7 linked regions of the Homo sapiens genome follow. The protein of the gene in region 1 purifies or fractionates together with the protein of each later gene. This does not show direct contact. Each region holds a gene or a part of one and is shown in the gene's direction. Other genes may lie near its edges. The genes, in order: VNN2, ATP2A1, FZD6, S1PR5, LMBR1, COX18 and GPAA1.

Region 1 (2,268 bases):
GTAACTTTAAACAATTCCTTCTCTGAGGTAGAAAACAAAAAGCCCTGACTTATGGAATTTGCCAGTTTTCATTGTGTCAATATTCCCGCCATGATCCCACCAGCTTCAAGAATGGATCTGTTGGCAGAGTTTGATAGCTCACGCCTGTAATCCCAGCACTTTGGGAGGCTGAGTTGGGAGGACCATTTGAGGCCAGGAGTTCGAGAACAGCCTGGGCAACATGGTGAAGCCCTGTCTCTACTAAAAATACAAAAATTAGCTGGGCTTGGTGGCACGCCCCTGTAATCCCAGCTACTGGGGAGCTTGAGGCAGGAGAATCACTTGAACCCAGCAGGCGGAGGTTGCAGTGAGCCAAGATCATGCCACTGCACTCCAGCCTGGGTGACAGAGCGAGACTCCATCTCAAAAAAGGGGGAAAAAAAGAATGGCTGTGTTTAACAGCCAGCTGTCCAATTTCCTGGAAATTTAACAATCTGTTCTCATGAGCCTGTGCACCACTAGCTCCAGCACACCACTGGTTTTAACCAATCTAGAATGAGAACTCACATTGCCTTGATCTGTCACACACACTTCTGTCTCAGAATGAGCCTTTGCTGGTTCAATGTCCACTTCCCACAATGTCTTCCACCATACAGCCCTTGAAAGAAATTCCTAACAGCTTGAGTTTTTGGCAGCTTGTGTCCCACTCCGTGAAACAGACCAGTTCAGTTTTTTTTTTCTCAGACCTCCTAGCACTTACCTGTTCTCTTCTCTGATACACTGATAAACTGATTTCTCTCTTTATGTTTAGAATCCGCTCCATTTCACCATTAGCTCTTTAGCTTCTTGAGGGAAGGATGTGATGTATAACTCTCTGGTTCCTGATTGTCTTGCACATAATCGAACTCAATGAATTGCTGCTGCTGATTTTGACTTTCCATTAATGGTTACATTTGATTGTTGAAACTAAAATCTTGGGCCCTCTTGAATTGCTCTAGTCTTCATTATGTAGTAAATGGCTGTCCCCTGCCTGGCCTACTTGCTGCATCCTCCTAAATCAGAAATGATTTGACTATACATTATATCTAGGATGGTTTCAAAATGATTAATTTGCTTTTAACTTCTATGTTAAGAAAGCTGACTGTACTTTTCCCACCTTTTCTTTAGGTGCTGAAAGATGGGCGTTTGGTAAACAAGAATGGATCATCTGGGCCTATACTAACAGTGTCACTCTTTGGGAGGTGGTACACAAAGGACTCACTTTACAGCTCATGTGGGACCAGCAATTCAGCAATAACTTACCTGCTAATATTCATATTATTAATGATCATAGCTTTGCAAAATATTGTAATGTTATAGGGCGTCTCTTTATCACTCAGCTTCTGCATCATATGCTTGGCTGAATGTGTTTATCGGCTTCCCAAGTTTACTAAGAAACTTTGAAGGGCTATTTCAGTAGTATAGACCAGTGAGTCCTAAATATTTTTTCTCATCAATAATTATTTTTTAAGTATTATGATAATGTTGTCCATTTTTTTGGCTACTCTGAAATGTTGCAGTGTGGAACAATGGAAAGAGCCTGGGTGTTTGGGTCAGATAAATGAAGATCAAACTCCAGCTCCAGCCTCATTTGCTTGAGACTTTGTGTGTATGGGGGACTTGTATGTATGGGAGTGAGGAGTTTCAGGGCCATTGCAAACATAGCTGTGCCCTTGAAGAGAATAGTAATGATGGGAATTTAGAGGTTTATGACTGAATTCCCTTTGACATTAAAGACTATTTGAATTCACCTAGTTTTCTGTGCTAATGTTTATCAGGAGATTTACTTTCCAATCAAAAGGCAATGTCGACATTTATTTCTACAGTGAACGTAGTTTTGAGTGCTAGAAGAATTGATGGCTATTCCAAGTTCATATCAAAGGAGACCTGACCCAGGGCACTCATAGCCCCAGCTGTCCCACCTTAAGGCTATGGCGTAATTTAACAGGCAGAAATCTCATAACACAAAGACCATGACAGTTAAAAGTTACACTATTTTCAGCATTTGGTTGACTTTTTACAAAATACACATATTCCATGCTACTTGAAGTAAACTAGTATATTTGTTATTGATCATTTAATTCAGATACTCTTAAAATTAAAGAACTGATTTTGAATTTTCAGATTTATTTTCTGATTTTTATCTCCCAAAGTATTTTTAAATTCAATACTTTTACATAAAAAAACACAATTGAAGCATTTATCTTTTGTTTTTACATATTGTCATAAACCTACTTATGGATTTGATTT
Region 2 (3,500 bases), on another chromosome or scaffold:
CAGCACTTTGGGAGGCCGAGGTGGGTGGATCACCTGAGGTCAGGAGTTAGAGACCAGCCTGGCCAACATGGTGAAACCCCATCTCTACCAAAAAATACAAAAAACACAAAAATTAGCCAGGCGTGGTGGCAGGCACCTGTAGTCCCAGCTACTCAGGAGGCTGATACAGTAGAACTGCATGAACCCAGGAGGCTGAGGCTGCAGTGAGCCAAGATCATGTCACTGCACTCCAGCATGGGCAACAAGAGCAAGACCCCATCTCAAAAAAAAAAAAAAAAGACAAAACAAAACAAAACCCAGCACTGGGGCCTCCCCCTGGCTCGCTAGTAGTGGCTGTGGCAGTGGCAGCACTGCTTGACATTTTCTTTTTTTTTTGAGATGGAGTCTTGCTCTGTCACCCAGGCTGGAATGCAGTGGCGCGATTTCAGCTCACTGCAACCTCTGCCTCCTGGCTTCAAGCAATTCCCTGCTTCAGCCTCCAGAGTAGCTGGGATTACAGACGTCCACCATCACACCCGGCTAATTTTTGTATTTTTAGTAGAGACAGGGTTTTACCGTCTTGGCCAGGCTGGTCTTGAACTCCTGACCTCGTGATCCACCCACCTCAGCCTCCCAAAGTGCTGGGATTACAGGTGTGAGCCACCCACTGCACCTGACCTGCTTGACGTTTCCATTCTGTCCCAAGCCTGAAACGGGACGGGTAGTGGGAGAAGGCTGGATGTTGTTGCCTACTCTCTAGATAGCCACCAGCCCACCCCTTCCACATGGACATAGGGCCACAGACACCTCGAGAACTGTCCTGTCTCCTTCAGCCTCCTCAAAAATCCTCCAGGGAGGAGCCATGAGATTCTAGGACAAGATAGGGGGTTCAGATACACTGAAAACCATGGCTGCTAGGCTGGGCGTGGTGGCTCATACCTGTAATCCCAGTGCTTTGGGAGGCTGAGGCAGGAGAATTACTTGAGGTCAGGAGTTTCAGACCAGCCTCGGCAACACAGCGAGACCCCATCTCTATAAAAAAAAAATTTTTTTAACTAGCTGGGTGTGGTGGTGTGCACCTGTAGTCCCAGCTACTTGGGAGGCTGAGGTGGGAGGATTGCCTAAGCCCAGAAGCTTGAGGCCACAGTGAGCTATGATTACCACGGCAGTCCAGCATGGACAACAGAGCAAGACCCCATCTCTATAAAATTTTTTTAAAAATTAGCTGGGCATTGTACTGCACACCTGTAGTCCCAGTTGTTTGGGAGGCTGAGGTGGGAGGATCACTTGAACCCAAGAGTTTGAGGCTGCAATGAGCTATGATCACACCACTGCGTTCCAGCCTGGGCAACAGAGCAAGACCCTGTCTCTGTAAAACCACCATAGCTGCTTCTGTTTCCGCACTGGCAGGGAGAAGCGAAGAAGAGGCAGAAAACATTCCCCATGGTCCCAGGGGGCAAGGGCTAGGCTGGCCCAGGCTTGCTGCTGAGCCCCTGCTCTTAGGGTGAGGGAGGCATGGTCGTAAGTGTAGGTCCCCCTTCCTCCCAGAAACATGCTTGACAGTTAAAAGTGTGGCTCCAAATATGTCCACTTATTTGATTTTCACCCAAGACATTGTTTTGCAGTGTACATGTCCTTGTCCCCATTTTACAGAGGAGCACATGGAAGTTAGGTGATCAAACACAGCTTGTTAGTGGTCAAGCTGGGGCTTGGGTCGAGGTCTTTTTAAGAGCCGTGGACTTCTGGCTGGGCACGGTGGCCTGTAATCCCAGCACTTTGGGAGGCTGAGGTGGGCGGATCACTTGAGGTCAGGAGTTCGAGACCAGCCTGGCCAACATGGTGAGACCCCGTCTCTACTAAAAATACAAAAAAAAAAAAAAAATTAGCCAGGTGTGACAGCATGTGCCTGTAATCCCAGCTACTTGGGAGGCTGAGGCAGGAGTATTGCCTGAACCCGGGAGGTTGCAGTGAGCTGAGATCTTGACACTGCACTCTAGCCTGGGTGACAAGACTGCAACTCTGTCTCAAAAAAAAAAAAAAAAAAAGGAGCAATGGACTTCCTAGCTGCCTTCAGTGGCTTCTTCCAGAGTCCAGACATCCCCCAGGATGGCTACTTGGTCCTTACCAGGAGCTGTCCTGCTGAGCAGGGAGAGAGTTAGGCACGGGAAGCCTGGGAGAAGGACATGATGTCATCCGAAAACCCCTTGGCCCCTTCTCCACAGGCGAGTCTGTATCTGTCATCAAACACACGGAGCCCGTTCCTGACCCCCGAGCTGTCAACCAGGACAAGAAGAACATGCTTTTCTCGGTGAGCAATCCGGGACCAGCCATCACACACTCAGTCAAGCCAGGTGCCCGGGTTGGAGAGAAACATGGCGTGTGAGAAGAGATGGCGTGGGGAGATGCGGCATGAGGGTCACCTCTTGCCTGATTCCCTGCCTCCTCTTTCCCTTCCCAGGGCACCAACATTGCAGCCGGCAAGGCCTTGGGCATCGTGGCCACCACTGGTGTGGGCACCGAGATTGGGAAGATCCGAGACCAAATGGCTGCCACAGAACAGGACAAGACCCCCTTGCAGCAGAAGCTGGATGAGTTTGGGGAGCAGCTCTCCAAGGTCATCTCCCTCATCTGTGTGGCTGTCTGGCTTATCAACATTGGCCACTTCAACGACCCCGTCCATGGGGGCTCCTGGTTCCGCGGGGCCATCTACTACTTTAAGATTGCCGTGGCCTTGGCTGTGGCTGCCATCCCCGAAGGTATGAAAGCCTTTCTTTTCTCCTCCCATTTGCTAATCCCATCTGCAAAGACCCCTTTTCTTTTCTTTTCTTTTCTTTTTTTCTTTTTTGTTTTTTGAGATGGAGTCTTGCTCTGTCACCCAGGCTGGAGTGCAGTGGCGTGATCTCGGCTCACTGCAAGCTCCGCCTCGCGGGTTCACGCCATTCTCCTGCCTCAGCCTCCCTAGCAGCTGGGACTACAGGTGCACGCCGCCATGCCTGGCTAATTTTTTTATATTTTTAGTAGATACGGGGTTTCACCGTGTTAGCCAGGATGGTCTCGATCTCCTGACCTCCTGATCTGCCCGCCTTGGCCTCCCAAAGTGCTGGGATTACAGGCGTGAGCCACCGCACCCGGCCTTGCTCAGTGCAACCTCTGCCTCCTGGGTTCAAGTGATTCTTCTGCCTCTGCCTCCCAAGTAGCTGGGATTACAGGTGCACGCCACCATGCCTGGCTAATTTTTGTGTTTTCAGTAGAGATGGGGTTTCACCATGTTGGCCAGGCTGGTCTCGAACTCCTGGGCTCAAGCAATCCACCCGCCTCGGCCTCCCAAAGTGCTGGGGTTACAGGTGTGAGCCACCACGCCTGGCCCAAAGACCCCTTTTCCAAGTAAGGTAACATTTACAGGCTCCAGGGATTAGGATCTGGTATCTTTGCGGACCATTATTGTTTGTTTGTTTAATAGAGACAGAGTCTCACTCTTGTTGCCCAGGCTGGAGTGTGGTAGCACAATCATAACTCACTGT
Region 3 (3,500 bases), on another chromosome or scaffold:
ATTTTTATGCTGAAAGCAGTGAGGTCTTTAATATTTTAAGACAGGAATGGGTAGCACAATCCTGTGAGCTTCTGTGTAGAGCATGGCACCTGTGTCAGTCTCCTGAGGGTTGGGCAGCACTCTGGCAGTTTCTGTTAGGAATCCAGGACACTTCCATCCTCCAACTCTGTCAGCCAGGTGGATGGGAGAGAGAAGGTAGAGAACTCACGCCTTTTCTTGAGTGCCTCAGATGGGAAGTGTTATACCTTTTCCACATGCATTCCTGTTGGCAAGATGTCAGTCATGTGGTTATAACTGAAACAAATAGGGAAAATAGTAAATGTGTGTCCTGAAGGAAAAAAGCATTCAAGGCAGAGGACATGTCAGGTGCTGCCAGTCAAAAAGAACATTACCTTATGCTATTTCACTAGAGTGACTGGGGCAAAGGACAGATCACAGTAGGTGAAGGAGTGAAGAGGAAGTAAAGCCAGAAACAGAGTTCTTAGGGAAGCTGGCTATAAAAGAGGAAAGTTTATGAGTTTAATGGGAAAGAACTATTTTAAGAACTACTAGGAAAAAGGAAGAGGCAAGCATATATGGGGTAGAAGAGGTCATCAATAGTAGTTTTCTAAGAAGGAGATAGGATCCCAAGCATAGATGACATTTTGGCCATGGATGGGAGGAACATCTGTTGTAACAGTAGGAAAGGATAGGATGGCTGTGGATATAGTAGGTTTGTGTGTTTGGTAAGAGTTGTTGCAATAATTTCTTTCTGATGGTTTCTATTTCCATTGTGACATAGTAAGAGTCAAGGAGGTCCTCTGTTGTGAGTCTGGGAAAGAAGGATATGTGTTCGAGAGAAGTGGTCATCATGGAGCATGGGAGAATGAGTCAATTAGAGAGGCTTCGTAACATTTTAGGTAAATCAGGCGATCCTGAATGTGTGGATCTCATCTGGCCTGTTGAGAACTTCTCCAGCTGTGGTGGGATGCTTGGGGCTAAGCACAGAGAAGGCAGATAGTTGTGCTCATCTGTGGTTGGGGTTTTGTCAGATGGATTCAGTGCAAAGATAAAGGTGCACTAAAAAATGAAGGATAATGAGAAGGGTGTTACTGAAACAATAGCCTATGAAAGTCTAAATAGATGGGGAGCGAAATGAAGAGAGAAATGAACTAATGTATGGAGACAAGCTGGAGGAGATCTATCCCAATGAGGTTTTTTTTTTAAAGGCATAATGAGGATTTTTTAAAAAATGAATTGCAAGGATAGGAGCTTGCAGACGAAGGGCAGGATGCTTGAGTTGATTTTTGGAGATAGTGTGTACTTGCAGGTTGTGGCAGGGTTCCTTGTGTGACTTTGATTACAGGTGGCCACTGCGGGTTAGGGATAGTCATTGGAGATGAGGAGGCTAAAGAGCCGAGAAGCCAGAGTGTGGATAGCTTATTCTTGGTCAAGTCACCAAGGATGATGACAGCAAAAGGAAAGGAGACAAAACTGATGATTCATTCAACTCATATTTCTTGTACTCTTACTGTGTGCCAGGACTGTTCTAGGCACTAGAGTTACAACAGGCAAAAATTCCTGCCATCATGGACCTTACATTTTAGTGGAGGGAAGGAGAAGATTCAGTAAATAAGTTATATTTATATGAGAAGACGGTGAGGCCTGTGGAGAAAATACTTGCTCTTTCATTATGAGATTGCCTACTCAGTTTCAAAGCAGGGGAGGTTATAACTTAAAAAAATTTACACTGGCACCTATGCTTAATTTCTAACTCTGTTGGAGTTTTGGTCTTCGTAACTTGATTTTTGGAGAAACGGAATTAATCTAAATCAAATTTATTCGTGTTTGAGAATGCTTGATACATTGAATTGGGAAGTAGAATTCATTTTTTAAAATTATTTAAGCCCTATATTAAACCATGTCCCATTAATATAAAGCAAACCCATTAACATCCTTTTATACAATGTTAGTTGGGTCAGCTGCACATAAAAATAATTCTAGTATGGCCTATACTGGAGAATATTTTTTCATTTCTATAAATAAGACCTTCAGGCTTTTGTGGCATCTTATTTACTTTGAAAACACACACAAAGAAAGAGGGGAACCTCTGATTAAAACACAAAATCTAGCTCATTGAAAGATTTCTAGCATAATGAAAGATTTAACATAACTGTGGTAAAAACATGAAGGCTGCATCTATTATTTGAGAAACGGCAGAACTGTGTGGTTATGGCATGCATTAGGCTCTTGGTTCCCCAGGAGAATGCCTTTGCCTTGGAAGAAAAAGGTGCATTCATTCTTTGAGGTCTGTAGTTTCCTCAGCTCATCAGAGCACAGGCACATTCTTTTCTACGTGAAGAGTTTTGTAAACTGAACTTTGTTTTCAGTTCCGGCTCCAGCCATCCTCGGGTAGCTTGCCAATAGATGAATCCCACTCGTTTGACCCATGACGCTCCTTCTTTTCATTTCTCCCTCTTTCCCCACAGCAGTGCATGTCCACCATACCACCTGAGAGTCTGTGGAATCTAATTTTCTGTTATACTTCTTTCCTTACACTCATTTTCCTGTCTTTATTATGATAGTCTAACTTTTTCTCCTCAAAGGTATAGCTGCCTTGCTTTCATGAAAACACACTTTCCTATTGTGATTTATCAGAGGCCTTTCCATATCTCAGCCACTATGCTATGACAGATTTTATAATTAATAAGTGCATTTCAAAGTGAAAACGTTACAAACATGCTTAACAGATGTTTTTATAACATGAAATATTCTACTGCGTTAAGATCAAAATGCTGACTATACTTGTTCCGTATACCTTCAGACCACTGTTAATGTAATATTTTGGCAAGGTGAATGGTCTTTTTTGGATATAAAAATCTCAGCATAAGCCAGGCATGGTGGTACACAGCTGTATTCTCAGCTATTTAAGAGGATTGCTTGAGTCCAGGAAATCAAGACCAGCCTGGGTAACATAGTGACACCCAGTCTCCATTAAAAAAAAAAAAAAAAAAGAATCTCAGGCATATACAGGCATATATTTAAAAGAAATATTCTATCTGGACCTTTCCGTGATAGTGAATAAACTTGATGAATACTGACTGACTTGATCATTTGCAATTAGAGTTCATGTGGAGAAAGTAAGATTTTAAGCACAATTAACTTATGAATGAATGTATCCATTCACTGACCTTTTCCACATTAGTCTTGATTAATTTTTTTTTCCTATTCTCTAGACAGTGGAGGCTGCTAATTTATTCTACTGATACAGTGAGACCTCATATAATAAATTGGGGAAAGAAACTGGTTAGCTTTTTGTTTTATTTTTAGGCTGAAGAAACTATAGAACCTATGTGGAACTTACACACTTCTGGTAGATACATAATCATTTTCAAGAACAATTGAGTAACATATAGTAAAATGGCAGATGCTTAACCCTGCATCCTAGGAAATCCCCTCCCATAGAAACTCTTACACAGAGAGTCGTGCACAAGAATATTGATTGTAGATTATTCCTAATT
Region 4 (4,181 bases), on another chromosome or scaffold:
GAGTGCCCCCTGAGTTTCCTCCCACGAGGGTATCCCGGATCCACACTTATTCTCAGCCTCTGGCTCATCTCTCCTGGGGCGCCCTCACCCCACCCGCGGCCAGCAGGGCCTGAAGCATCAGGGGCAAAGGGCACGGTCCTGGAGAAGGTCGCAGCAGCGGGACCCAGCCTCCCTTCCTGAATCTGAGGGTGGAAGAGCTGGGACCGTCTGGAAGTTCCTGGGAAGTCGGGGTGGGGGCGTTTCGGGGCCAGCGGGACTGGTCGTTGGAGGAGCAGTGGCCTGGGAGAGGCGTGGGAGAGCATCACAGACAGCAACAAAGAGACACGCAGAGGCAAAGAGACACGCAGAGACAAAGAGACACGCAGGCGAGAGACTCTGAGATCCTCCTGAGAGAGATACAGAGGAAGTGAGGGAGACACTCATTCATTATCTGGGCATGGTTGCAAGCGACTGGAGTCCCAGCAGCTACGTTCAGCCGGCTGAGATGGGAGGATGGCTTGAGCCGCGGAGGTCGAGACTGCAGTGACTTATGATGTTGCCACTGCACTCCACTCTGGGCCACAGAGCAAGATCTTGTCTCAAAAAAAAAAAAAAAAAAGAAATTCTTACATTGCTGGGGTTTACTGTCTGCTAAGGACACAGCCCAGAAACACCATTAATGAGTAAATCACTTTGTCGTCAGCGATAAGGGTGGGAGAGAATCGGTCGGGGGAACACGGAATCCAGGGGGTGGGACAGGAGAGACCCTCCTTATCTGAGGAGCGGCAAGTTCCCATCACAATCCTGCCCGGGCCCGCCCCACCCCCACTCGCCCTGAGCCGGGGGCGGGAGCGGGAAATTGGGAGGGGCCTGTGCCCGGGAGCAGCGGGAACCTATCTGCTGGTGGGAGAGGACTCAGGCTAAGGTGGCCCCCACTGAAGACTCCTGCTAAGCAACCCACTGAAGACCCCTCCGAATCATCGACGGGGCGTCCTTGGGGTGCAGCCCAGGAAGCTCAGTTCACAGGTGGGTGGGCAATGGGAGGGCGCAGTGCCCGGACACCCAGGACAGAGGAGACCCCTCCGCTGGGGAGAAGAGGCTCAGGCTGCGACCGCCCTGCTGCAGAACCCTCCCTTTCCCGCCTCTCCGAGTCCTCCCACCGCGATGGAGCGTCCCTGGGAGGACAGCCCAGGCCCGGAGGGGGCAGCTGAGGGCTCGCCTGTGCCAGTCGCCGCCGGGGCGCGCTCCGGTGCCGCGGCGAGTGGCACAGGCTGGCAGCCATGGGCTGAGTGCCCGGGACCCAAGGGGAGGGGGCAACTGCTGGCGACCGCCGGCCCTTTGCGTCGCTGGCCCGCCCCCTCGCCTGCCAGCTCCAGCCCCGCCCCCGGAGCGGCGTCCGCTCACTCGGTTCAAGGCAGCGCGACTGCGGGTGGCGCACGACCAGGGCGCAGAGTGAGTGGACTGCACTGGACCTTTGGGGGCGCTGGGCTGGGCCTGACCCGGAGGGGGTCGCCCTGGCGGCCACTTTCCCGGTCTAAAAAGGCGCACCACTCCTTGCAGGGAGTTCTCCGAACTTTTCCTGGAGGCCTCTGGGGAGGGGGAAGCTGGGGGCTCCCCAGCTGGGTGCAGGACCTGGGATACGGGGTGAAGGTGGCTGGAATCCCCTGGCCACCCCCTCCTGGCCGGGCCACTGCAAGTTTCCATACTTCAGTCCTGCTGCCGGGCAAGCTGGGCGGATGGGGTTGGCCTCCCCCTCAGAGCATGTGTAACCCTGTCTCCCTGTATTTGGGCTCCCCACCTCCAGCATGGGTGAGCCAGCGACTTCCTGTCTATGTTTGCCTGCCTTGATTCTCTGTGTGTGACTGAAGCTCTCTGGGATGTCCGCATCCCTGCCTTGTGCAAAAGAGATCCATTCCCCTCCCCAGGCCTTGGCTTTCTCATCTGGACTTGCATGGGGACTATTTGTGCATGGATGTTTGTGTGGGAGCATGGAAACCTTTGCGCCTGCTTCGATACGAAGCATTTCTTTTGAGCTTCAGTTTTCTCATCTGTAAATTAGGACTAAAGGAAGTGGGGATTAATAAGGTCACAGAGGCAGGTGAGGAGTGTTATTACAGTTTAATGACATGTGTGCCCCTCTGTAAGAGTCTGTTTGCCTCTTGTGGATTCTCTCTCCTGTCCTCAGGCTCTGCCTTAGTAAAATGAGTGAATAGGATCAACTTTTTTTTTTTTTTTTTTTTTTGAGACGGAGTTTCTCTCTTGTCACCCAGGCTGGAGAGCAGGGGTGCGATCATGGCTCACTGCAGCCTCGGCCTCCCAGGCTCAAGTGATCCTCCCGCCTCAGTCTCTTGAGTAGCTGGGACTATAGGGGCATAACACCACACCTGGCTAATTTTTAAATTTTTTTGTAGAGATGAAGTCTTAGTATGTTGCCCAAGCTGGTGTCGAACTCCTGGGCTCAAGTGATACTCCCACCTCGGCCTCCCAAAGTGCTGGGATTACAGGCGAAAGCCACTGTGCCTGGCCAAGGAGCAACTTTCTCATGGGGTTTTGGGTGGATGAGGGGGTTTTGGCAGGAAAAAGCTTTGTATGCAGTGAGACAAGAGTGTGGAGTGTGGTGCACTGGGCCCCAGGCTAGTGTGAGTGGAGGTTGTGAAATTGTGGCCTGTGCCACTGGGTGGGAGACCCTGTATTCGTGTGACTGAATTTTGGTCGCTGTGTTTTTCTGCCTGCGTCACTCTGTTCCTGTATGATGTATTTTTTAGTTTCCCTGATAGTGTGTGACTGTGTGTTTTGCCCTTGTAGTGTGTCGCTGTATTTGTGTGTCTCTTTCTGTGTGTGTTGCGTTTGTGTGCGTTCTGTGTGTTTACTGTTACGTCTCTGGAACTCCCTGCTTGTGTGTTTGTGTGTGTGTGTTTGAGACAAAGTCTTGCTCTGTTGTCCTGGCTGGAGTACAGTGGCACAATCAATGCTCACTGACTGCAGCCTTGACCCCGCGGGCTCAAGTGATCCTCTCACCTCAGCTGGGACTCCACTGAGTAGCTTGGACTATAGGCATACACCAACACGTCCCGGCTAATTTTTGTAGAAACGGGGTTCTCCTATGTTGTCCAGGCTAATCTCGAACTCCTGGGCCTCAAACAATCCTCCCGCCTCAGCCTCCCAAAGTGCTGGAATTACAGGAGTGAGCCACCACACCCAGCCGTGTGTGTGTTTGGTGGGGAGGGGGGGTGTTTTGAGACAGAGTCTCGCTCTGCCACCTAGGTTGGAGTGCAGTGATGCGATCTCGGCTCACTGCAACCTCCGCCTCCTGGGTTCAAATGATTCTTCTGCCTCAGCCTCTGGAGTAGCTGGGACTACAGGCACGTGCCACCATGCCTGGCTAATTTTTTGTGTTTTTAGCAGAGACGGAGGGGTTCACCGTGTTAGCCAGGATGGTCTCGATCTCCTGACCTCGTGATCTGCCCCCCTTGGCCTCCCAGGCCTGAGCCACTGCCTCAGGCCTGAGCCTGGGGGGATTACAGGCGGGGATTACAGGCCTGAGCCACCGCGCCCAGCCATGTGTGAACCACCGCGCCCAGCCATTCATGTGTTATTAATGTCCCTTTTTTTGGGACTATGTCACCTTGTTCCCTCGTGATATTATTTGTGTGTATGTCTGTCTCCACGGACTCTATCCCTCCATCCTGAACTCCCCCTTGGACACCATGTATAGGGGGTGATGGTCAGTGGGTAGGGCCCCTTTCCCACGACTTAGCCGGCTGCTGCGAGCGTGCTTACGGGGACCGCGGCCTGACACCGTATCTTGCCTCTCCAACAGCCTTGGGGCGCGCGGCCCATGGAGTCGGGGCTGCTGCGGCCGGCGCCGGTGAGCGAGGTCATCGTCCTGCATTACAACTACACCGGCAAGCTCCGCGGTGCGCGCTACCAGCCGGGTGCCGGCCTGCGCGCCGACGCCGTGGTGTGCCTGGCGGTGTGCGCCTTCATCGTGCTAGAGAATCTAGCCGTGTTGTTGGTGCTCGGACGCCACCCGCGCTTCCACGCTCCCATGTTCCTGCTCCTGGGCAGCCTCACGTTGTCGGATCTGCTGGCAGGCGCCGCCTACGCCGCCAACATCCTACTGTCGGGGCCGCTCACGCTGAAACTGTCCCCCGCGCTCTGGTTCGCACGGGAGGGAGGCGTCTTCGTGGCACTCACTGCGT
Region 5 (4,165 bases), on another chromosome or scaffold:
TTTGAGTTGTGAAAAAATTTTCTCTACTCAAAATTGTGAAGAGAAACGGCAAGGTTTAAATTACCACATATTTGTCTTTGAAGAACTTTACAACAACTTCATTGACTGTTAAATTTAGATTCATAAAAATCTAAACAACGGCCGGGCGCGGTGGCTCAGGCCTGTAATCCCAGCACTTTGGGAGGACGAGGTGGGCGGATCACCTGAGGTCAGGAGTTCAAGAACAGCTTGGCCAACGTGGTGAAACCCCGTCTCTACTAAAAATACAAAAATTAGCTGGGCGTGGTGGCGGGCGCCTGTAATCCCAGCTACTCGGGAGGCTGAGGCAGGAGAATCACTTGAACCCAAGAGGCAGAGGTTGTTGTGAGCAGAGATCGCCATTGCACTCCAGCCTGGGCGACAAGAGTGAAACTCTGTCTCAAAAAAAAAAAAAACAAAAACAAAAACTAAATGACATTTGAAAGCAATTTGTAGATTTTCACACTTCCTAAGAATTCTCAAAGATGCCAAAAACAAAAATCGCAGCCACTAGCAATTTAAATGACTTCCTCGTAGCCAAATAAATCCTAAGGTAAAATTATAAACATTCCCTTAAATTCAAATTTTATAACAAAAAGAAAGATAATAGGGAACGGAGGGTGAATTATTGTGTTTGATATATTTGGCGGTGAAAAATACATATATTACGTGCTGTTTAGGGTCCACTGAGAGTCATAAAACTGACCCTAGTGACCGAGCTACCGGAAGGACTTGGCAAGGGTCTAGCGAGCTCGGTTATCTGCGTTTTCCAGGTGGGGCAGCCCAAGACCCTTCTCAGACCCAGAGAAGCTGGGTTTCCGCCCAAAGCCCGGCCCCAAACCACCGATTTCCGACCTTTCAACCTACTTTGGCAGAGCAAGAGTTTCCGCGGGAGACTCCCTGCTTCCCTCTGCCCAGGTCCCCTGAGGCCGAGTGCGGTACTGAGTGCTGAGTAAGGGGTGCCGAGTGCCAAGCACTGAGTAACTGGGGGAGGGGAACCATGCAGCTGTCATAAATAATTAGCTCCTGTGAGGAACAGGAACTCCGAGACTGCGGCCGGGCCAGGTGGGCAGAGGTCGCAGCGCCCTCGCCGCGTTCCCCGTCCCCATCCGACGCCAGGACAGCGCCTCCTTAACTGGGGTAGCCCCTGAGAGCGTGGGCGGAGCCCCGCCCCGCGACCTCAAGGCCCCGCCCCCTCAGCGCCTCCCGGCCCAGCAGCTCGGAAGACCGCGAGGCGCGCTTTTCTGACGCATCGGCGCCTTTCGTCTGACGTATGCCTGCACCGCCCCCTCCCCTCCCTGCCCCGCCCCCGCCCCGCCCCCGACTGCGCGGCGCCCGCCCTCCCTTAGTCAGAGCTGCTCGTCTGAGGCTGCTGAGGCGACGGCCGGTGTCGTGGTCGCGGTACCTGTTCCAACACGGCTCGCGGGCCCGTGCCGGCTCCGGTCCCCGGCGCGGCTGTCCGAGCCCCTGCGGCGGGCGGACGATGGTGTGGCGGAGCACGCGGACGCGGGCGGCGCGGCGGCGGGCATGAAGGAGGATGGAAGGGCAGGACGAGGTGTCGGCGCGGGAGCAGCACTTCCACAGCCAAGTGCGGGAGTCCACGGTGCGTGGGGACCGAGGCAGCCCTGACAGTCCCGCGTGCCCGCCCGGGCCCTCCGTCCCCGCCCCCGGGCCCCCGGTCCCCGGACCCCTCACCTCCGGGCCTCGCCTCGCGCCTCCCGCCCCGGCCTCTGCCGCTCTCCCTCCCCACCCCTCCTCTCCCCTCCCCTCCCCTTCCCTCCCCACCTCTCCTCTCCCCTCCCCTCCCCTTCGCTTCCTCTGCCTGCCCCCCCGCTCCGCTCTTGCCTCCCCTGCCCCCTCGCGCTCCCTCCGTTCGAGCCCCGACCCCGCCCCCGCCCCGCGGCCTCGGTGCTGCCCTTCCCTTCCCGCGGGGAGGGCTGCGGTGCGCGCCGCGCTCTGGGACCCCAGGGGCTTCCTCTCTGGGCGGGTGTGCGGCTCGCGCCTCGGGGTGTGGACGGCGGCCCCGCCAGTGCGCGCCCCCGCGCTCCGCCGCCAGGCCAGGTAGGCAGGTGGATGCGCAGGCGTCCCGGAGAGCCTGGGTGGGCCCGGCGGGTCCGGGAAGGGCCGGGCTGCGCGGAGCCCGCCCGCCTCTCGCGTTTGGACCCGGCCGGTTACCTTGTCCCGGTCAACACCTCCTGCCCTCCTGGCGCCTCACGTTTCCATCCCTCTTTCATCTCCCCCAGCCCCCACGTGGGTTGAGTTCGAAACCTTACCGTTTGGGATGAGAATATTGGTTATTTTTGGGAGTGAGGACCTCAGCAAAAGTCCATTTTGCTATGGAAGCAACTTCTTAGGGAAGCAGCTTCTTTTTTGGCCCATGTTCCATGTGTGCTGTTGGCAGGAGTCAGGAAGCGGACTTGACCTTGGAAAGTCTACTTTGATGTTTTTATCTTTTCATGATGCTCTAGAATGTATTGTAATTGGGTTTATCTGTGTTTTCATAACTGTTGTAAAATATGTCAATTTTTTATGTTTATATTTACGCCTCTCCTAAGTTGTCTACGATTCAGTCACACTTGGTTTGAGGTGAAAAAATTCTGCTTTAGAATTATCTAATTTGTGTACTCACTGATCTTGAAAATTGAGAATCACTTTGGAAGTCATACTTTGAATAAAGAGGACATATAAAGTCTGAGCTGGTGGAATTTGAGTTAGTGGAATTTGGTACACATTTAGTTGTAATTTTTATAATTGAAGCTAAAATACACAGAGATAAGTTCATGTAATCATACATGTACCCTTCAGATCATTTCATACTAAACACGCCTGTGTACTCCTGAATCCACCAGGAGTTTGAGACTGGTCAGCCTGGGCAACATAGTGAATCCCCATCTCTACCATTATAAAAAAATAAATAAATAAACACAATTTTACTAGGATCCCAGAGACTGATTCCTTTCCCTCTTCCAATTACTTTCTCCTCCACCAAGGGTAAACGTTGCCCTGGCTTCTAATATCATAGATTAGTTTTTGCTTAGTTTTGAACTTTATGTAAATGGAATCTTACCGTATATACTCTTCTGTGTCCAGTTTCTTGTACAATGTTTGTGAAATTTCTCCATGTTGTATGTGGTTATAATTCATTCTCGGTGCAGTAGTTGTGTGACTATAGCACAATTTATTTTTCATTTTACTGTTGATGGGCACTTCAGTAGTTTCTAGGTTTTGGCTATGAATATATATATGTGTATATATATGTGTATGTATATATGTGTGTGTGTGTGTGTGTGTGTGTGTATATATATATATATATATATATTTTTTTTTTTTTTTTTTTTTTGTGATGGAGTCTCGCTCTGTCTCCCAGGCTGGAGTGCAGTGGCACAATCTCGGCTCACTGCAACCTCTGCCTCCGGGATTCAAGTGATTCTCCTACCTCAGCCTCCTGAATAGCTGGGATTACAGGCACACACCACCACACCCAGCTAATTTTTCTATTTTTATTAGAGACGGGGTTTCTCCATGCTGGCCAGGCTGGCCTTGAACTCCTGACCTCAGGTGATCCACCTGCCTTGGCCTCCCAAAGTGCTGGGATTACAGGCATGAGCCACCACGCCGGGCTGGCTATGAACTTTTTGTACATAGCTTTTGGTGGACATGTTTGTGCATTTCTGTTGGGGATAGCCCTAGGAATGGAATCCCTAGGTTAAAGAGTGTGCATTTGTTCATCTTTAGTAGATACTTTAAAACAATTTTCCAAAGTGGTTGTACCAGTGTACACTTCCGCCAGTACTGACAGTCTCAGAGGTGTGGTTGTTACTCATCTTTATCAATACTTGATATTTTCTGTCCTTTTTAATTTTAGTCATTCTAGCAAGTGTGTTATAGTGTTCATCATACAAATAATTTTAATTTGCATTTTCCTGATAACTAATGAATTTGAGCACCTGTTTGTTTATTAGCCATTTGGAAATCTTGTGAAGGGTCAAATTTTTTTCCCCATTTAAAAATTAAGTTTATCTTTTTAATATTGATTTGCAAGGTCTTTACAGAATAACTTGTATTATATTGTTATACAGGTGGATATGATTTCTTTGTCAGAAATATATACTGCACATATTTCTTTCCCACTCTGTGGATGCCTTTC
Region 6 (3,500 bases), on another chromosome or scaffold:
GCCAAAAGAACCAGATTAATAGCTGCTTGCCTGGGTTATCAACGCAGCCTAGATAAGACTTGTGGCACCTTGCTTAAGCAGTACTGGCAGGATGGTTGTGCAGATACAGCCTTACAGATGTTTCTTTCTAGGAGGAAACATCTGAGGGCTTCTGGCATTTTCTTTTCTTTTCTTTTCTTTTTTGTTTTTTTGAACAAGACAGAATCTCCCTGTGTTGTGCAGGCTGATCTCAAACTCCTGGCCTCAAGCAATCCTCCCACTTTGGCCTCCCAAGTAGCTGGAATTACAAGTGCAAGCCACAGTGTTGGCCAGCTTCCTGCATTTTCAATAGTATTGAGTCTTGAAGGGTAAAAGACGGTGTGTCAGATGGACAGCCAGGAAAGTGGGCTTTCCACACAGATGATATAATACAGTACTTCCAAAGGCATGCCTATGCGGAAGTCTGATTTGTTGGATGAACTAAAGTCATTCAGACCAGAATATGCAGGTGTCTAGAGGAGTAACGAGATAAAATTGGAAGAATAGGCAAATGTGAAATTATGGAGGACCTAGAATGTCTTTGTGTACTGTCTTATTATACACTATAATTTGACTAAATTCAGAAAAACTATTGAATGCCTCCTCTGTACAAAATATATGATACAGGAGATTTAAAGATGAATAAAATAGAACACTGTCCCCTAAACTAAGAATACTTTAGTTTTTGTTTTTTAACTCCTATTCTCTTGGACCTGAAGGAAGACTGTATTCTAAAAAGTAAAATTTCAGGAAAAAACAGTAGTAACTAATATGGTTAACAGAGAAACAGATTAAAAATATCTTTGTGAGATAGTTGATTGAAAAATGGAGACTATTTTGACAGGCCAAGAGCATACACAGTATAAAACCACATAGCTCCAAAAGGTATATTCAGGGATGAAGTGGTTAAGTTTGGCGGGAGTGGAGAGATTTGATTAAAGTTTGCTTTTAGCTTCCATATTTCCAATATTAATTGTAGTTATACCATGTCAGTAGTGAAATTTACCTTTAAAGCCTAATCAGCCAAAGACCACCAGAGACAAAGCCTGTAGTCTGACAATTTCAGATTGTTATGTAACTTGTGTACCATACTGTAGAAGTTTTGATAAAAGGCTTTATTTGCCTGTTGTTTAGGCAACTCCTTAACATGCCTGTGACAGCTGAAACCCTTATACAAATCCTTTAGCTAATAACTACAGCAGGCGCTATTTGTGCTATGGAAATAAAGCACGATTCTTAGATGACATTTTCTCTTTCCCCTTTTTTCCCCCTAACCTCAATCTAGGCTCACTTATCTAAAGAATATGAGGAGGCTAATTTCAGAGCTATATGTGCGAGATAACTGCCACCCTTTCAAAGCCACTGTGTTGGTTTGGATTCAGCTTCCAATGTGGATCTTCATGTCTTTTGCTCTCCGGAATTTAAGCACGGGGGCAGCACATTCAGAAGGTAATTATTGTATGTCTTCTCCCAAAGAAGTTCTCTAACATTGTCTTTGTACTAAAAAAAAAAAAAAAAAAAAAAAAGCATACTTTTCATAATTACGATATGTTTACTATCTTCCTTATAAGGGTATAGAATTTAAAGTCTTAAGTGTAAACAGATTGGTTGTGTTGTGAACATTTTGTATTGAGAAAAAATATATATATTGTGCGTGAAAAACTGGAATAAATCCAGTGCAGATCTTTCCTGTGAGGGACACCTTATTGGAATTGTCAGACTACTTATTTATGTCTTATATATTTTTCTCTGCTATTTTTAGGACTTCTATTGTTTTATTTATAAAACTGTTTTAGCAGGTTTTTCTGTTCAGGAACAGTTAGCTACTGGTGGAATTCTGTGGTTTCCTGACCTCACTGCACCCGACTCCACTTGGATTCTGCCTATCTCTGTTGGCGTCATCAATTTGTTAATAGTGGAGGTCAGTAGTTTTAAATGAAATTTGTTTGCCATTTATGGGGATTTTTGTTGCTGCTGTTTTGACTTCAAATCTGTTTTTGTTTGAGTTGGTGAAGATAGCTCTGAGTTAGAAGTGAGATCCCTTGGTTCCTGGTTCCACGTCAGGCATTGGCTTAGGCCTGTCCCTTAACCTCTCTGGGCCTCAGAACTCTCGAAATTAAAGTAAAAGCACTAGTATACTTCCAAGTCTCTTTCAGCTTCAAAATTATATGATTCTGATACATAGAATTTTGTGACTTGCTTTTGGCAAAAACAGTAATAAAGATGCCCAGTCAATCTGGTTGTATTCTTAAAATAGAGTGATGTTCCGTGTGTGTGTTTAATATGTGAATTTGTAGGCGGAGAACACAAGTCAGGCCCTGACTGCTATTTTCTTGCTTTATGACCTTAGAAAAGTCATTGAATGTCTTTATAAGATGAAATGGGAAAAACATACACATAGAAAATGTGACCTCTCAGTCATGTCTTTTTTTTTCTTTTTTTTTTGAGATGGAGTTTTGCTCTTGTTGCCCAGGCCGGAGTGTAATGGCGCAGTCTTGGCTCACTGCAACCTCTGCCTCCTGAGTAGCTGGGATTATAGGCGCACACCACCACACCCGGCTAATTTTTGTATTTTTAGTAGAGACAGGGTTTCACCATGTTTGCCAGGCTGGTCTCGAACTCCTGACCTCAGGTGATCCACCCGCCTTGGCCTTCCAAAGTGCTGGGATTACAGGCATGAGCCACTGTGCCCAGCCCTCTCAGTCATGTCTTAACCCTTATCACAGGCTGCTTTACTCAGCAGTTTAGGGAAAGCGTGCATATAATTTCATAAATTGTTCTCAGACTCTGAGTAGAACAGACTGGACTGGAAGAAATCTTAAAAATGATTTACCTCAGTAGAGATCTCCCAGACCTCATGACCTCTGATGCCTGTTTGTGAAATCTAATATACCCCTTATTCTTTCAGATGAGGAAAATGGAGATGATAGAATATAAGGTCTTAAGTGAAAGTTTCTTGAGGAAAGACTCTACCTGTAGTCCAAATATGTTTCCCTAAGAGCACTAGCACAGTCCCCTGTGGTTGGTGTTCAGTGAATATTTGGTAGAAAGAAGGAAGTGATAAGCACAAGGTTACAGTGAATCAATGTCAATCCCCTAGTCTTTTCCTCTATGTCATCTAAAGACTAATAAAGGTGTTTTCATAGCGGGGCATGGTGGCGTGCGCCTCTAGTTCCAGCTACTTGGAAGCTGAGTCAGGAGGATTGTTTGAGCCCAAGAGATGGAGGCTGCAGTGAGTTGTGATCCCACCACTGTACTCTAGCCTGGGCGACAGAGAGAAAGACCTCACCTCTAAAAGAAAAATAAAAGCTTATTAAAAGCTTATTCTTACTCAACATACACTATGTGCAAGGCATTGTGTTTTTTGTTTGTTTGTTTGTTTGTTTTTTTCTTGAGACAGAGTCTCACTCTGTTTCCTAGGCTGGAGTGCAGTGGTGTGATCTCCACTCACTGCAACCTCCACCTCCCAGGTTCAGGTGATT
Region 7 (4,273 bases), on another chromosome or scaffold:
GGATTGCTTCAGGTCAGGAGTTTGAGACCAGCCTGGCCAACATGGCGAAACCCCGTCTCTACTAAAAATACAAAATTAGCTGGGAGTGGTGGCACATGCCTGTAATCCAAGCTACTCAGGAGGCTGAGACAGGAGAATCTCTTGAACCTGGGAGGCGGAGGTTGCAGTGAGCCGAGATTGTGCCACTGCACTCCAGCCTGGGCGACAGAGCAAGACTCCATCTAAAAAAAAATAAAAGTACAAAAATTACCTGTTCTCATGGATCACTTGAGGTCAGGAGTTCGAGACCAGCCTGGCCAATGTGGTAAAACCCCATCTCTATTAAAGACACAAAAATTAGTGTGGTGGCAGGCACCTGTAATCCCAGCTACTAGGGAGGCTGGGGCAGGAGAATCACTTGAACCAGGAGTTGAAGGTTGCAGTGAGCCAAGATTACACCACTGCACTCCAGCCTGGGTGACAGAGCAAGACTCTGTCTCAAAAAAAAAACAAAAAAAAACTTGTTCTCACATGGAGTCTTCAGCTTTGACCCTTCTCTCTGCCCACCACTATTTTGTTTGTTGAGACATGGTCTTGCTCTGTGCTCAGGCTGGAGTGCAGTGGTGTGATCACGGCTCACTGCAGTCTGGATCTCCCAGGCTCAAGTGATCCTCCCACTTTAGCCTCCTGAGCTGAGACTACAGGCATGCCCCACTCACCTGGCTAATTTAAAAGGAATTTTTTTGTGTGTACAGACTGGGTCTCATTTCGTTGTCCAGGCTGATCTCAAAGGATCCACCCACCTCACCTTCCCAAAGTGCACCCTCTTGAGCAAACTCCCCCTTCATTCACCTCTGGCCCACCGAGCCCCGACTACCAGTCCCTGCAGTCTGGACCCTGGGACTGCTTCTCCCCTAATATTCCACGGATCTCCTGGCCCGGACAGTGACAGTATGATCCCCCACTTTATAATGCACACACCCCAGCTCCAGTGAAGCCCGTTTTGGCCAGTAGTGCCATCAGCATCTTCTCTGCAGTCATCTGACTCTGAAAACCTCGGTGCTGGGCTCACGCTGTGACTCCACTGGGACGTCCTGAGTCATTGGCAGTCTCGCTTGGCATCCATTCTCTGACCGCCGCCGGCTTTCCACCCACCTGCCCGGCTCATCACCTCTGACTCCTGCGGGCCTTCCAGCCGGCGCTATCTCGCAGCCCCCGACCAGCTCGGCCTGCTGTCGGGCATCTCTGCTGTCCTCCGGCTGTAGGGCTACCTGCCTCCCTCCCGGGGGGTGCACTGCGAGTCCGACTCTAGTGGGGGCAGCGCCTAGCGGACTCCCAAACCCGCTCAGGTCCTGCCGGCCTCACCGGCACCGCCCACCCTCCAGCCGGCCGCGGCTCTGCGCTTGCGCGCCGGCAGCACACAGTGTTAGGGGCGCGCCCTCTGCTCTGGACATGCGCGCCGTCGCGAGCGTCTCTGGGACCGGAAGTGCGGGCGAGCGCGGGTCCCCGGGTCTGACAGGAGCAGCCTGTGGGCACCGCGGCGGTAGTTGGAGGCGGGAGAGGGTCCGTAGCCGCGCCGCCCTGCCCCGCCATGGGCCTCCTGTCGGACCCGGTTCGCCGGCGCGCGCTCGCCCGCCTAGTGCTGCGCCTCAACGCGCCGTTGTGGTGAGGACAGGGCCCGGGGAGGCGGGGACCCGAGGGCCCTGGGCTCGCGCCGGCGGCCCCATGCGCGGTCCCCATCGAGGGCCGGGGCCGCTCCAGCTGCTCGCGCCCCTCCGGCTGCTCGCGCCCTTCCGCTCCTGCCCTCTGGAAGCACTGAGGGTATCAGGCCCAGGCTTAGGGCTCGGGTCCGGCGTCCCGATGCAGGACTCCGGGTTTAGGTCTCCCAGACCCGCGCGATCGACCCCGGGTGCGGAGGTTGTGGCCTCGGGTCGGCGTCTGAGGACCCGCTGACGCTCCGGTGCCCCTCCGTCCTCTCTCACAGCGTGCTGAGCTACGTGGCGGGCATCGCCTGGTTCTTGGCGCTGGTTTTCCCGCCGCTGACCCAGCGCACTTACATGTCGGAGAACGCCATGGGCTCCACCATGGTGGAGGAGCAGTTTGCGGGCGGAGACCGTGCCCGGGCTTTTGCCCGGGACTTCGCCGCCCACCGCAAGAAGTCGGGGTGAGCGGCAGAGCAGGGCGTATGGGGCGAGCAGTGGTGGCTAAGGCCGGGGAGCTCTGCTCAGAGGCTCCCTTCGTGTCTGCAGGGCTCTGCCAGTGGCCTGGCTTGAACGGACGATGCGGTCAGTAGGGCTGGAGGTCTACACGCAGAGTTTCTCCCGGAAACTGCCCTTCCCAGATGAGACCCACGAGCGCTATGTACTGGGGGAGTGGGGTGTGCCTGGGCCCAGAAAGCACCTTGGAGGGAGGGGTCTGGGCTGGGTATCACCTTGCGGGGGTGTCATGGGGCCAGGAAGCTCAGTGGGAGGGAAATCCCTGGTGGGCACTGGAGGGCTAGGAAAGTTGTGGGGGGCCCTTCAGCCCCCTACCACAAAGTTACACTGAGGCTCCCCCCACCGATGCTGCATACAGATGGTGTCGGGCACCAACGTGTACGGCATCCTGCGGGCCCCGCGTGCTGCCAGCACCGAGTCGCTTGTGCTCACCGTGCCCTGTGGCTCTGACTCTACCAACAGCCAGGCTGTGGGGCTGCTGCTGGCACTGGCTGCCCACTTCCGGGGTGAGTCTCAGGGCTGCTGGCCGTGGAGGGGTTTGGTCAGTGCCCCAGACCCTGCTGATCCTGCTTCTGGCCTCCAGGGCAGATTTATTGGGCCAAAGATATCGTCTTCCTGGTAACAGAACATGACCTTCTGGGCACTGAGGCTTGGCTTGAAGCCTACCACGATGTCAATGTCACTGGTAGGTTCTCTTGTCCTGCCTGCCCTGGTCCCCCTCTCAGGGTCACTGTCCTCACCACGTCCTCCATTAGCACTCATTCACTTGCTCCTACAGGCATGCAGTCGTCTCCCCTGCAGGGCCGAGCTGGGGCCATTCAGGCAGCCGTGGCCCTGGAGCTGAGCAGTGATGTGGTCACCAGCCTCGATGTGGCCGTGGAGGGGCTTAACGGGCAGCTGCCCAACCTTGACCTGCTCAATCTCTTCCAGACCTTCTGCCAGAAAGGGGGCCTGTTGTGCACGCTTCAGGGCAAGGTGGGGCTGCCTGCCTGCCTGAGGGCTGAAGGGCACAGGGTCTGTGGGAGGGGCTGTCTCATCCTGTCCTGCACCTCTAAAGCTGCAGCCCGAGGACTGGACATCATTGGATGGACCGCTGCAGGGCCTGCAGACACTGCTGCTCATGGTTCTGCGGCAGGCCTCCGGCCGCCCCCACGGCTCCCATGGCCTCTTCCTGCGCTACCGTGTGGAGGCCCTAACCCTGCGTGGCATCAATAGCTTCCGCCAGTACAAGTATGACCTGGTGGCAGTGGGCAAGTAAGTAGTCTCTGGTCCCCCCTTTCCATGCCCAGGATGGGGTCTAGCTGGAGCGGAGTGGGGGATGGCCTGGTGGCTCTGGCCAGCCGTGAACCTGCCCCACACCTGACAGGGCTTTGGAGGGCATGTTCCGCAAGCTCAACCACCTCCTGGAGCGCCTGCACCAGTCCTTCTTCCTCTACTTGCTCCCCGGCCTCTCCCGCTTCGTCTCCATCGGCCTCTACATGCCCGCTGTCGGCTTCTTGCTCCTGGTCCTTGGTCTCAAGATATCCTCTGCCCCTTGCCATCTACCTGTGACCAGCCTCCAGTCTCCTCAACTCTAGGCTGGGGAGAGTCTTCCATCCTGATGGGGGGTGGGGTACGGGGGTGAGCCCTGGGTCCCCCTCTGGGCAGATCCCGTTACACCTCTTGTTGGGGTCCTTGATTGGGCTACGCTCTGGAACTGTGGATGCAGCTGCATGAGGCTGGAATGGGCCTTGAGGAGCCCGGGGGTGCCCCTGGCCCCAGTGTACCCCTTCCCCCATCACAGGTGATGGCACCCCCTTCTGTTGTTGGAATGGGCTTCTGGGGTCTGACTGGTGTTTAGTGTTGCAACTTAGCCTCAGCTGGTGGGATGGTGGTGGTCTTTGGGGATCCCCTGGCCCCAGGGTCCATCTCCAAGAGCCTGTGTGCCCTGCAGGGTGTGGGGCTGGCCTCGCTCGTGGCACCTCTGCTGATCTCACAGGCCATGGGACTGGCCCTCTATGTCCTGCCAGTGCTGGGCCAACACGTTGCCACCCAGCACTTCCCAGTGGCAGAGGCTGAGGCTGTGGTGCTGACACTGC

The links.
Region 2: the proteins of VNN2 (region 1) and ATP2A1 purify together in Homo sapiens (affinity purification with mass spectrometry; 2 studies listed by BioGRID and IntAct, with this or other methods). This does not show direct contact.
Region 3: the proteins of VNN2 (region 1) and FZD6 purify together in Homo sapiens (affinity purification with mass spectrometry; 2 studies listed by BioGRID and IntAct, with this or other methods). This does not show direct contact.
Region 4: the proteins of VNN2 (region 1) and S1PR5 purify together in Homo sapiens (affinity purification with mass spectrometry; 2 studies listed by BioGRID and IntAct, with this or other methods). This does not show direct contact.
Region 5: the proteins of VNN2 (region 1) and LMBR1 purify together in Homo sapiens (affinity purification with mass spectrometry; 2 studies listed by BioGRID and IntAct, with this or other methods). This does not show direct contact.
Region 6: the proteins of VNN2 (region 1) and COX18 purify together in Homo sapiens (affinity purification with mass spectrometry; 2 studies listed by BioGRID and IntAct, with this or other methods). This does not show direct contact.
Region 7: the proteins of VNN2 (region 1) and GPAA1 purify together in Homo sapiens (affinity purification with mass spectrometry; 2 studies listed by BioGRID and IntAct, with this or other methods). This does not show direct contact.

What each region holds. Positions count from the first base shown.
Region 1 is NC_000006.12:132,743,370-132,745,637, reverse strand, and holds the end of VNN2 (pantetheine hydrolase VNN2 isoform 1 precursor), read left to right. Parts: exon of another isoform or gene 1-206; intron 207-1,146; coding exon 1,147-1,338; 3' UTR 1,339-1,768; downstream 1,769-2,268. UniProt on the Homo sapiens protein: Amidohydrolase that hydrolyzes specifically one of the carboamide linkages in D-pantetheine thus recycling pantothenic acid (vitamin B5) and releasing cysteamine. Involved in the thymus homing of bone marrow cells.
Region 2 is NC_000016.10:28,884,988-28,888,487, forward strand, and holds part of ATP2A1 (sarcoplasmic/endoplasmic reticulum calcium ATPase 1), read left to right. Parts: intron 1-2,201; coding exon 2,202-2,287; intron 2,288-2,437; coding exon 2,438-2,735; intron 2,736-3,500. UniProt on the Homo sapiens protein: Key regulator of striated muscle performance by acting as the major Ca(2+) ATPase responsible for the reuptake of cytosolic Ca(2+) into the sarcoplasmic reticulum.
Region 3 is NC_000008.11:103,319,398-103,322,897, forward strand, and holds part of FZD6 (frizzled-6 isoform a precursor), read left to right. Parts: intron 1-3,500. UniProt on the Homo sapiens protein: Receptor for Wnt proteins.
Region 4 is NC_000019.10:10,514,648-10,518,828, reverse strand, and holds the start of S1PR5 (sphingosine 1-phosphate receptor 5), read left to right. Parts: upstream 1-1,381; 5' UTR 1,382-1,431; intron 1,432-3,799; 5' UTR 3,800-3,817; coding exon 3,818-4,181. UniProt on the Homo sapiens protein: Receptor for the lysosphingolipid sphingosine 1-phosphate (S1P). S1P is a bioactive lysophospholipid that elicits diverse physiological effect on most types of cells and tissues. Is coupled to both the G(i/0)alpha and G(12) subclass of heteromeric G-proteins.
Region 5 is NC_000007.14:156,890,384-156,894,548, reverse strand, and holds the start of LMBR1 (limb region 1 protein homolog), read left to right. Parts: upstream 1-1,365; 5' UTR 1,366-1,545; coding exon of another isoform or gene 1,546-1,555; coding exon 1,556-1,621; intron 1,622-4,165. UniProt on the Homo sapiens protein: Putative membrane receptor.
Region 6 is NC_000004.12:73,063,217-73,066,716, reverse strand, and holds part of COX18 (cytochrome c oxidase assembly protein COX18, mitochondrial), read left to right. Parts: intron 1-1,303; coding exon 1,304-1,467; intron 1,468-1,814; coding exon 1,815-1,939; intron 1,940-3,500. UniProt on the Homo sapiens protein: Mitochondrial membrane insertase required for the translocation of the C-terminus of cytochrome c oxidase subunit II (MT-CO2/COX2) across the mitochondrial inner membrane.
Region 7 is NC_000008.11:144,081,161-144,085,433, forward strand, and holds the start of GPAA1 (GPI-anchor transamidase component GPAA1), read left to right. Parts: upstream 1-1,473; 5' UTR 1,474-1,570; coding exon 1,571-1,644; intron 1,645-1,963; coding exon 1,964-2,143; intron 2,144-2,228; coding exon 2,229-2,340; intron 2,341-2,553; coding exon 2,554-2,701; intron 2,702-2,778; coding exon 2,779-2,880; intron 2,881-2,973; coding exon 2,974-3,170; intron 3,171-3,252; coding exon 3,253-3,449; intron 3,450-3,561; coding exon 3,562-3,715; intron 3,716-3,882; coding exon 3,883-3,978; intron 3,979-4,128; coding exon 4,129-4,273. UniProt on the Homo sapiens protein: Component of the glycosylphosphatidylinositol-anchor (GPI-anchor) transamidase (GPI-T) complex that catalyzes the formation of the linkage between a proprotein and a GPI-anchor and participates in GPI anchored protein biosynthesis. Binds GPI-anchor.